Regions from separate parts of the Homo sapiens genome. Here region 2 is linked to region 1. The links come from fine-mapping of genetic effects on gene expression. A gene starts in region 1. The other region holds a variant in brackets. All regions are shown on one strand. Distances are from middle to middle.

Region 1 (5,388 bases):
AACAACAGGTAAGGTCTTTGCTCTTATTTAGCTTCATGCAAGGCAGAAGCTATATGACACAGTGGTTAAAGCCAAACAGATCGCATCGGTGCTTGCCCCAGCTCAACCACTTACTAACTGTACCAGCTGAATAAGCTATGAAACTTTCTGGGCATAAATTCTTTTTTCTGTAAATATGGATATGGACAGATCCACCTCAAATGGTTGCTACATGCTATCAGACAGTAGTAGCACAGTGCCTGGAATATGGTGAGCATTACAGAGTTGTCATTATAGTTATTATATACTACAGTTACTTTATACTCTTAGGAGTGAGTGGATTGGTTTGCCCAAGGTGTAGTAGAAACTGCAACTCAAACTCTTCTCTCAAATAATGGAAATCAATTCATTGACAAAGATAATCTTCAGAGAAGGATCATCCTGCCCTCATAACATGAAGAAAAATCCTTCATTACCTGTTTTTATTCATTAAGGATCACTATTAATGGACAAAAAATGGGCTGAATACAGGTTCCTGAGAAAAGACATTCTTCTCAAATTTGCCTTTTAGCAGATCTTACCAACATTTCTTACAACTGTGGAGTTCCTTTCAAGTTACTTGGATATATGTTTCTTCCATCAAGAGGAGAAAAAAAATGGACTAAAAGGCAAATGGGATACAAGAAAGATTAACCTGAATGACTGACTATATGAGAACTTCTTGAAAGCAGAATTACAGCCTCATTCATCTTGGCAACCCTGGTAGGGTGTCTAGACTGATTATAGGGGCTCAAATATAGCCCGTCTGTATTCTAGGTACTTACCACACACTTCATTCTTCCCAATATCACTTCAGAGTGGGTACCACCAATCTCATTTTATAGACAAGAAAAAGGTAAAGCCCAGATTGTTAAACAATTACTCAACCTTACAAAAGTGCAGAACCAATCTGTTCTAAAGTTAATTCCCTTTTTCCATGTGAATGTCTCAAAAATGTTTGGTGGATGAATACAGAATTAAAAGCAAATTCTGGAGATGCCTTTTATTTCAGATCCGTGATCCAGGAATATGACTCCAGACAAGGGAGGTTTATTTAGGTAATGTTGCTCTCCTTCCCTTTAAAAGAGCTCAAAGCCAAAAATATAAGCCAGACATTATCAAAGAGCAAATGAATGTCTAGAAATAAACTGAGCATTTATAGAAGGATACACTAATTTGAACATCGGGAAACAGATGTTAAAATTTCAGATCACTTATTATTCAAACATGCCTTGGGGGGAAAAAAGTAATATGTAACTGCAAACTGTTGTTGTATTTGCAAAAAATAGTTTCTGAGTTTGTAAGTTGTTACACAATACACTGAGTTTCTTACGGTTGTAATCTTTCCTTTCCACTGAGATCATTCAGTCCCTCACTTGGATTGCTTTAAATGTAATCTGCTCAGTCAGAAGTAGAACCTGGAGTTAGGATTGCTTCACCAGAGCTAAATATTAGTCACTTTGCTCAACCCTCATTTGCCCTCTGCTGTCCCCACCCAACTCTCATTTTTCAGCCACACTCCACCAAATGCATACTTAGTGCTTGTGGTTCCAGTAACACAACACATTCAAGCTAACCTGTCTGTGGAAAGTTTGCAACCCTCTGAGTTCAGACTGGGGTTAGCCATGAAGCATGGGGTGACAGGAAATGGCATCCAGTAGTCACTCTTTCCTCTGGGTCCAGTCTTTTTCCCATCACTTTCATCATTGTCCGCTATTTTATTCCTCTGCCGCATCTCCTTTGGGACCCAAGAGGGAAGGAGGACACGAAATAATACAGGAAAGGAAATCAAAAAACAATTGTAGAGAAACCACTCCTCGTTTCCTCTTCTATGTCTCGTGTGTGTGTGTGTGTGTGTGTGTGTGTGTGTGTGTGTGTGTGTGTGTAAAATTTTAATTTCCCTGGAATTGGAACTACAGAAGTCCCTCCTCAGCCCTACCGGGAAAGTGGCACTGGGCACGACCGCCCTTTCCAAGGCAGTCTGCAATCCTTTTCGCGGAAGTAGAGGAGAAAAGGGGGTGGAGAAGGGCGCCGCGATGCAGCATCCGCTGAGAAAACAGGCAGTTCGCACGTGAGCGGGCTCGCAGCCTGTGGCGCCACCTGACCGGGCCTGGCGCCCCCAATGTGGTGCAGTGGCCCAGCAAGACCAGAAGGCTCAGGCCCTCCTGAACCCTTGCCAAGTCAGAGGTCCCTTTCTGCCTGGGCTCAGGCCTCGCCCGCATATAGTTTTCCATCTGCTTCCACCCCTGCCATCCTTCCTGGGGACCAAAAATGAAGAAAGACAACCCCCCCATCCCCCGGTATTTCGTCTTCCCCTCACAGCCTCTTCCTGTCCTGATCATCTGCTCAAAGAGAAGACGTTCTCTCCACACACTCCACCCCCGCCTCCACCTTCTGCGGCAATGAAGCCACGCCACCCTAGGGGGCTCGGGGGCCGGATGCTGGCGGGGCGCGCACTAGAGACACGCCGCACTGGAAGCAGCCCTCGGAGTCCCGTGAGCCAGGGAGACTGGGGTGCACCGCGCCACGCTGAGTCTCGGTGTAAAAGCCGAGAGCGTGAGCACCTCCTGGCCGAAAGCACGCGAGGCGCTCCTTGCCCAGGACCCCGCGCGCCCCCTCAGTTCCCGGGCAGCTGTCGGCGCGCACTGGCTGACGCGAGCTCTGCTCCCGCGGCCGCTTCGGGATTTTTTTGTCTATATAAGGGCTCGCTGGCCAACTCTGCGTTGGCACGTTTGTCACAGGCTGGCCATTATTTGCACACACGCGTGCGGCTCCGCGGGCAGCTCGGGTCGCAGACGCAGGCTCGCCCTCCTCTTAGCCGGCACCTCCTCCTCCTCCTCCTCCTCTCCCCTCCCTCCCCAGCTGTACTTACTTTATCTGGTCTCTGGCGCAGGGTGGGCGCTGCAGCCCTCCGTTCCCAGCAAACCGCAGCCGATTCGCCTCGCTGTCAACGGGTGAATGGAATTATTTATTTATTTATGGCCCCTGACGTGTCCTCGCCCGCCACAGCCAGCGGAGAAGGAGGCGGTGGCGGGAAGGGGAGGCGCGGCTGCTGAACGCCCTTGTGGGTGCGGAGGAGCGCGCGCCAGGGGTGGGGGCCGGACAGGCTGCGGTGGAGGCCGGCCCGGGGGGTGGTGGGGGGGAGCCGCCTCCCGGTGCCTGGAGACCGACTGAGCATGCTCCAAGCGGCTGTCAAAGCTATAGGCACTTTCTCTATCGCTCGGGGCACTCCACTTCGGATTTTAGTTTTGACCAAGGAAGAAAGCCAAAAGGCAGGTAGATCTGTCTTTCCAGATGGGTCGTAACTTGCTGTATCCGAAGTACTCTGTAGCCTGACCTAGAAGACAGATGTGCGGTAGCTCTGTGCAACCCAAGCATGGGAGAGGAAAGCATGCAAAAAAAGAAGAGTCTGGCCGAATGCAGGGAGAATAGGAGATCCTCATTGTGAGCTTGCAGGGAAAGTGTTGAGCCATTTTTCAACTGAGGCCTTTTTGGGAGAAAGAGGTAGGGCACTGTTGGAGATTAGACTCACCAACCAAATCACTTCACGGAAAAAAATATAATTGACACCATAGGAGGAAGGACATAGAAAACAGCACCAAAAAACATTAAAAATAAGAAGGATTTTTTTTCAAATCATTTATAATTCCTTTCATTTTTAATTTCTCAAATTACTTAGTTCTTCAAACCAGCATTTAGTTATTTGACAACGAATAGTGCTAGAGATAATGGTAATTCTGCTGTCATTGGTTTGGTCTCTTCCCCTGTCTAAAATGTGCTTCTTGGTAAAACTGGAAAGAGGAAGGGCTGGAAGAGAACATTTAAGTAACCCCATAGATTGGGTTTCTTTAATATCTTTAAGTTAAATTGCCACTTTAGAGAAAAAGAAACTATCCAAAAGAATAATTGTAGGTTTTGGCTTGACAAGTCCTATTGCAGTTTGTCTACCAGTTTAGCTAGCTTTCTCCTCCTTGATTTCACAATCATTTTAAGGTGTGTTCTATGATTCTTCACATTTTACGAATTTATAAAAAGAGTTAAGTCATTTGGGTAAATTCACATTGTCTTTGCCACAGCTAGTCTGTTGTAATGGACGAAATTTGAATTTCAATTTCTGTAGCTATGAAATAAAAGTAATATCAATCGTGTTGATTTCATAAGATTTAAGTGAAATAATATACATGAAGTGGCTGGTAGGCATAATACAAGATGAAAAAATAATCGTGATTAATAACATCAAAATTACTGGAAGATAATTTTATTGAAAGAATGATATTTGAAAATGAAAAAAAGGCAGAAAATTACAGAAAGGATTTTATATTTTTAAGCTAAAAATGCTTAAATAGACATTTGTATAAGACATAATAGGCCTTTGATAATGATGAAATGTCTAGCAGTGACTATAAACACTTCATTTAATTAAAAAAAGTTAAACATTTAAAAGAAACAACATAAAGGCACATTTCAAGGTCATAGTCTTGAGTGTTTGCTATTGATATTTTTCCTGCTCATTCATCACTTTTATTTCCTGTCAAAGAAGAGGAAGAAGAAAGACCATATGCTTTCTGAATTTTGATCCTATTCTCCCTTTTCCTTCTCTTTGATTTTTCTTTTTTGTTGTTTTTTTCTTATAGTCCCATGTTCTTGACCTGTTTAACCTATTGCTGAATGCCAAACATCACTACTTATAGCATGATATCGTAACCTTCTTTTTAAGTCTTGTTTTTTCAACAATTAAAACTCTGGATCTAATTTACCTACTGTCACAGAGTTAGTATTTGGGAACTCATTTCTAAATTGCTTTGTTGTGATAGCTAGGTATGTTATGTAAAATTTGATTGGACTAGAAAGGTATCTGAAAGGAGGGAGAATCAGCTAAGAATAAATTCAGCCAGTTTATCCTATGACTTACAGTTTAATATTGTTAAGAAATTGAGAAAAAAATACAATTTAGGGAAAAAATAAGCCATATGATTAGAACTTGGAATGCTCTGGTAAAATGTTTGCCTTGATTTATATTCATAAGCTGAAATAACAGTGGGAAAAACAAATAGCAATACACTTAGCATTCTAGCAACTCATATTCCACAGATGAGCAAACTGTGAATACGTACATCACATATATACTCATGAAGTCCACATGTCTTTTACTATATACCCACATCCTTGTGGTTTAGGTTCTTTCTCCCTTCTTCATTCCTCAGTCATACACAATCTTCTCACATTTTTCTGTCTTTTATCATTCACTGCCCTCTTTTCCATATCAAACTTGTCTAAACCTTTTTTCCTCCTTTAATGCCCAGCAAATATATCATCACTTCTATAGCATTTTAAGGATTCTTTGTTAACAAATAAGGGTTAAGTTCATCT
Region 2 (5,388 bases), 100 kb after region 1:
ACCACTAGCAAGACTAATAAAGAAGAAAAGAGAGAAGAATCAAATAGATGCAATAAAAAATGATAAAGGGGATATCACCACTGATCCCACAGAAATACCAACTACCATCAGAGAATACTATAAACACCTCTAGGCAAATAAACTAGAAAATCTAGAAGAAATGGATACATTCTTGGACACATACACCCTCCCAAGACTAAACCAGGAAGAAGTTGCATCCCTGAATAGACCAATAACAGGCTCTGAAATTGAGGCAATAATTAATAGCTTACCAACCGAAAAAAGTCCAGGACCAGACGGATTCACAGCTGAATTCTACCAGAGGTACAAGGAGGAGCTGGTACCATTCCTTCTGAAATTATTCCAGTCAATAGAAAAAGAGGGAATCCTCCCTAACTCATTTTATGAGGCCAGCATCATCCTGATACAACAGCCTGGCAGAGACACAAAAAAAGAGAATTTTAGACCAATATCCCTGATGAACATTGCATCACTGGCCATTAGAGAAATGCAAATCAAAACCACAATGAGATGCCATCTCACACCAGTTAGAATGGTGATCATTAAAAAGTCAGGAAACAACAGGTGCTGGAGAGGATGTGGAGAAATAGGAACACTTTTACACTGTTGGTGGTACTGTAAAGTAGTTCAACCTTTGTGGAAGACAGTGTGGCGATTCCTCAAGGATCTAGAACTAGAAATGCCATTTGACCCAGCCATCCCATTACTGGGTATATACCCAAAGGATTATAAATCATGCTGCTATAAAGACACATGCACCCGTATGTTTATTGCGGCATTATTCACAATAGCAAAGACTTGAAACGAACCCAAATGCCCATCAATGATAGACTGGATTAAGAAAATGTGGGCTGTAATCATTTAAACTGTAAACTAAATGCTTTCCAAAGTTAGCCTAAGCCCGAGAACGATTAAGGGAAGAGAAGATGCCAGGGGCGGGAGGGTTAGATTAGATGTCATTTACTGCCATAATTTTCTCACCGTTATAATTTTTGCAAAGGTGGTTTTAGTGTTATGGATGCCAAGAAAAGAGAAGGTTTCAAGAATGGGATGGTCGGCTGTCTTGACTGCTTCAGAAAGGGCTGTGAGTGTTCTCCACGTGGTCAAACCCAAGGAACAATTTTCAGGCCTTTTCTACTGTTCAAAATCTTGTCAGAAAAAGTTTGTTGAGAATGAGGGTAAAAATTGAAGACTTGGAATTGAGGGAAACTACTTTTTAGAGAAAGAATATAGAAGAGCCTGTTCATATAATAATGGGAAAGGTACGTGAAGTGGGGAAGGTTGATGATCTGGAAAAATAAATAAAGGAAGCATAAACTTTTGGAAAAGATGGGGACAGGTGGAGAATTTCTGACAAAAGATCACTTTTTCTGTTCTAATGGAAAAGAATAATAAATGATGATGATAACTTACACATTGTTTTTGTTATGTGCTGATCCCTTTTCTGTTATATGTTTTTGTGTATATTAATTTTATTTTAATAATATTTTAATGTAATTTATTAATCTTTCTAATAACTTTTAAGGCTGGTATTGTTATCAGCATTTTATAGAGGGACACAAAAATATAAGCAACTTGCACAGGTCCCATATCTAGTAAGTGATGAATTGGGATTTGACCAAGAGCCTCAGTACAGAGCAAGGGAAAGTGAGCCCCTTTCTGTCTGATTTCTTCTTTTGACAGGATGCATAAGGTAAGGCATCACCTGAAAGGTGCAGCGATGGTGGTGGGTAAGGAGATGAGAGGAGAGTTAAGAATAAGTAAAATAGTGGCCAGGGATAATGAGAGAGTAAAATACAGAAACACAGTGGAATTTTCACGTGGTGGTAAGTACTCATTTGACTTTTGCGAGACAATGTTTATAGTGATACTAGTTAACCTGGTTTTGTGATTGGATCCCTTTCATAATATTCCATATGAATCCAAAAGATAAAAAAAAGTAGATGGTTAGGTTCATTCAGGGCTAGAGTCTTTCTGGCATTATTTTGTTTTGGTAAGAAAGTGGAGGATATCTGCAAACAATAGCAAATCCAGGGTATAAATTTAAATGTATACATTTTATCTACCCCTGTAGCATTGTTCACTAGGAATTTCTGGATTACACGGGTAAGCAAAAAATTAATAGTTCATCAAATTGTGATTCTGTAAGATTAAAATTGGAAGAAAGAAAGTATTTAAAGGGAGGGAACTAAAAAATATGCATCATGGCTAATTACCTGTGCTATAATACTATGTCTTCATTGGAGACTTACTAGAGTTTCTTCTAATTTACAACCATTTGTTCTAAATGTGCTTACATTGGGAGAATCTGCTAGAGATTGCTAGTATTACTATGCCCCAGGCACATTGCTGAGATTTTCTGTATTTTTTCCAAAACATTTAACTTTGAAGCAAAGTGCATTTTTTATTATATCTTTCCTGCATTTTTCCCTAATCTTTGTTTTCTTAAAACTATTTCCCACATATAGTTGATTCTTGTTAATGGACACTAGCAAAGTTACAATTTCATGGAAATTAATGTTGATTAAAATAGATTTTCTATCATTTATATAGGAAAGACCTGATACATAACTGCTCATAAAATTTAAGTAGCAATGGTGTGTAAATTGATTCCTTTAAGAGAAATGTGCTGTTTTAAGGTCACTATTTTATACATGCATCATTCATTACCCATGGTGACACCATATTGCCTATTCAAAGTTATCTCAAAGCCAGAAACAAATAAAGAGCTAGGCCTAAGCTGGGAGAAATGTGGTTTATTAGCATTTTTACAGATTCTTGCAAGTAAAGTTTCACTAAATGGATACACATGGGAACGGACTTGAATAGATAATTTTCTCTACAAATCTTTCATTG[T/A]AGGATCACGGATTATGAATTTCACATCCATAGACAGTGTTAAATTTATTTTTATTTCAATCTCAGACACACATTTATTTCTGAGTTTTATGCAAAATCAGCTACCATATATTACATGCAAACATTAGTTTATGCCTATATTATAAAGTGAAATCAAATATCAATATGTAGAATTTGGAAAACAGCTTACCTAATAAATACTAGAATTTACTCACATATCAAAATTCATTGTGGTAAAACAGTATTTTTTCATTGAATTTTATATGTCTTATCAAAAGCAGTGGCCATAATTAATAAATCCCTAAAGTTTGTTGACAATAGAAGTGGTATAAAAAATTAAGATTTTTTTTGTCACTTGACTTTGACAAACATTATTACAATGAGGGCTGGAGCTCAGTCAGTGCTGGGGTGGGCAAACTCAAGGACTCTGCAGCTGAAACCCAGAACTGTATGATGGGATAAAACTTAAGAATGCCCCCTTCCAAGATGATTAGTGGAAGACCAGCAAGCAATGCAAAAAGCAAGATGCCAGGAAGTCAAAGTAGTATGTGATAGCTATGGTAGGGAGTAAAAATCAGTATTCAGTCATTCATTTGTTTAATAAATCTGTGGCACGTACCTACCATGTGCTAGGCACTCTTTTAGATGCTTGAGGTAAAACAATGACAGATCCACAGTCCGAAAGATCTTATATTCATGTGATAGGAAGAAACAGGAAGTAAAAAAAACGTAAAGAATAAGTAAGTGTGGGAAGGTGATCAGTGTTATGGGAAAAATAAAACAAAAAAATTGGGCAAAGCAAGAGGGATCAGAGTAACTGAGTGTGGAGCAAGTTATAATTTTAAGTAGGATGATCAGTAAAGGGCTAAAAGAGCAGTTGGTATGAGGATGATAGCACCTCCCTCAAGGCAAGAGATGAGAGAATTAGCTATGCAGATCATTTGGGGAAAGAGAAGGCTTTCAGTGCAAAGACTCTGCAGTGGAACCATGCTTGACTGGCTCACAAGTAAGGGTCAGTGTGTCTGGAGTAGAGTGAATCAAGGAGAAGATACCTGAATAAAAAGTCAAAGAGATACTGGGAGGGCTAACTTTCCATGGCATTCTTTTTTCCTACACTGTGTTCATGTCCTTTTCTGCATTGCTTTGTTTTCTTTTGTTCTAAAAGGAAAAAGCCAGGATGATAGACTACATTCTCCAAATACATCTAAAAATAGGGAAAAGTAGAAGTCTGATTCTATAGAATGGGTAGATAGCAGGAGGGTCTTGGGTGAAGATGTAGAAAATAAAAAAGGTCGTCAAGACTTGCTAAGTAAGTGGCCTCAGGTCCTCTATGGGGTGCAAAGAAAAAGTGTTGGAGAGATTTGGATTCAATCCTGTCTCTATCACTAGATGTTTGACCTCAGAAGTGGAACTTAACCTCTCTGAGGCCTGATGTTATCAATAATAAAGTGGGTACTATAACATCCTTTTCCTACAATTACCATAAAGATCAGATAATGTATATAAACTGGCACAAAGTAGGCATTTTTGACAAGTTGTCTTCTTCCATTTCTATTTTGCTACCTACCACTAATGTCCAGATTTCAGCTTTGAGGCTTTTATCTTCTCCTGGAAATAACTTTTACATTTGATCACTCATGCTTTGATTTCTGGCCACTTTTTGCACATAGCTATATCAGGGGTACTAACTGCAATGGAAAAGAAAGGCCTAGTAGCCTTTATCATTATTTTCCTGCCTATGGTGTATTTTGCCCCCATTTCGCCCCTCAAATTCCTCTGAGACACAGGAGAGGTGAGTGGCAGGTATATTCCTATTTGACCAAGATTGTTGTGAGCTGTTAGTGCTCTTAGTCTGGCAGAGGTTTAAAACGAACACCTTTTCTTGATTTTGGATTGGATTCGGGAGTTTTCTAGAGACTGTGGAATTCTGGAAATCTGTCTTTTGCAGATCTTGGAAATGCATCGCATTGTCTGTTCTCATTGGTCATGTATATATCTGCTCACCCCCGAGGCACCCAGCAGCTTGCTCCCCTCTGCCTTCTGCCAGGGTCTCCTCAGACCTCTCATGGACATGACCCAAGGTAGCCCGAGATTGCAGTGCTTGCTCAAGTGACCCACTTTTATTCTATGGGAGGTAGTCATGTATCCTTTACTCCAACAAACTCTGAAAATGCGGGCCATCACCAACATGTTGCTCAGTAGCTCGAACTTTCCATTTTTAGATTTCTTAGATTTGAGTCCAACACCAATGAATACATCACTCAATAGCCAGGAAATACTTGTTTTCTTGGGGCAAAGATAAAACAAAGATAGTTGAATGTTACTGGCATTGAAGACTGTATCTTACGGAATTCTCATCTTGGTTTTCAATTTGTCCACTGATTTTAAAAAGAAATACATAGTTCATGTAATCCTTTAGAACTCAAATGCTGTCTATTTCTATCCCTCACTCATAGCATTTGAAAGGCATATAATTAGTAAGTGAAACAGAAATAGACTGCAACCTTACTT

The links. PIP is the estimated chance that this variant, and not a neighbour inherited with it, causes the effect. A credible set is the group of variants that fine-mapping cannot tell apart.
Region 2: its variant is the best candidate, but not a certain one, in a credible set for the expression of SLC16A7 in whole blood (INTERVAL, PIP 0.66).

What each region holds. Positions count from the first base shown.
Region 1 is chr12:59,593,739-59,599,126 of GRCh38, reverse strand. SLC16A7 (solute carrier family 16 member 7) reads right to left here and starts at 3,098. Exons shown (of 6, transcript NM_001270623.2): 1 at 2,891-3,098. RefSeq lists enhancers at 2,290-2,439, 2,490-2,629 and a silencer at 3,100-3,169.
Region 2 is chr12:59,493,264-59,498,651 of GRCh38, reverse strand. No RefSeq gene overlaps it. Among named protein-coding and RNA genes, the nearest start is that of LINC02448, 28 kb to the left of the region's middle. The variant T/A (reference allele first, on the strand shown) is at 2,878.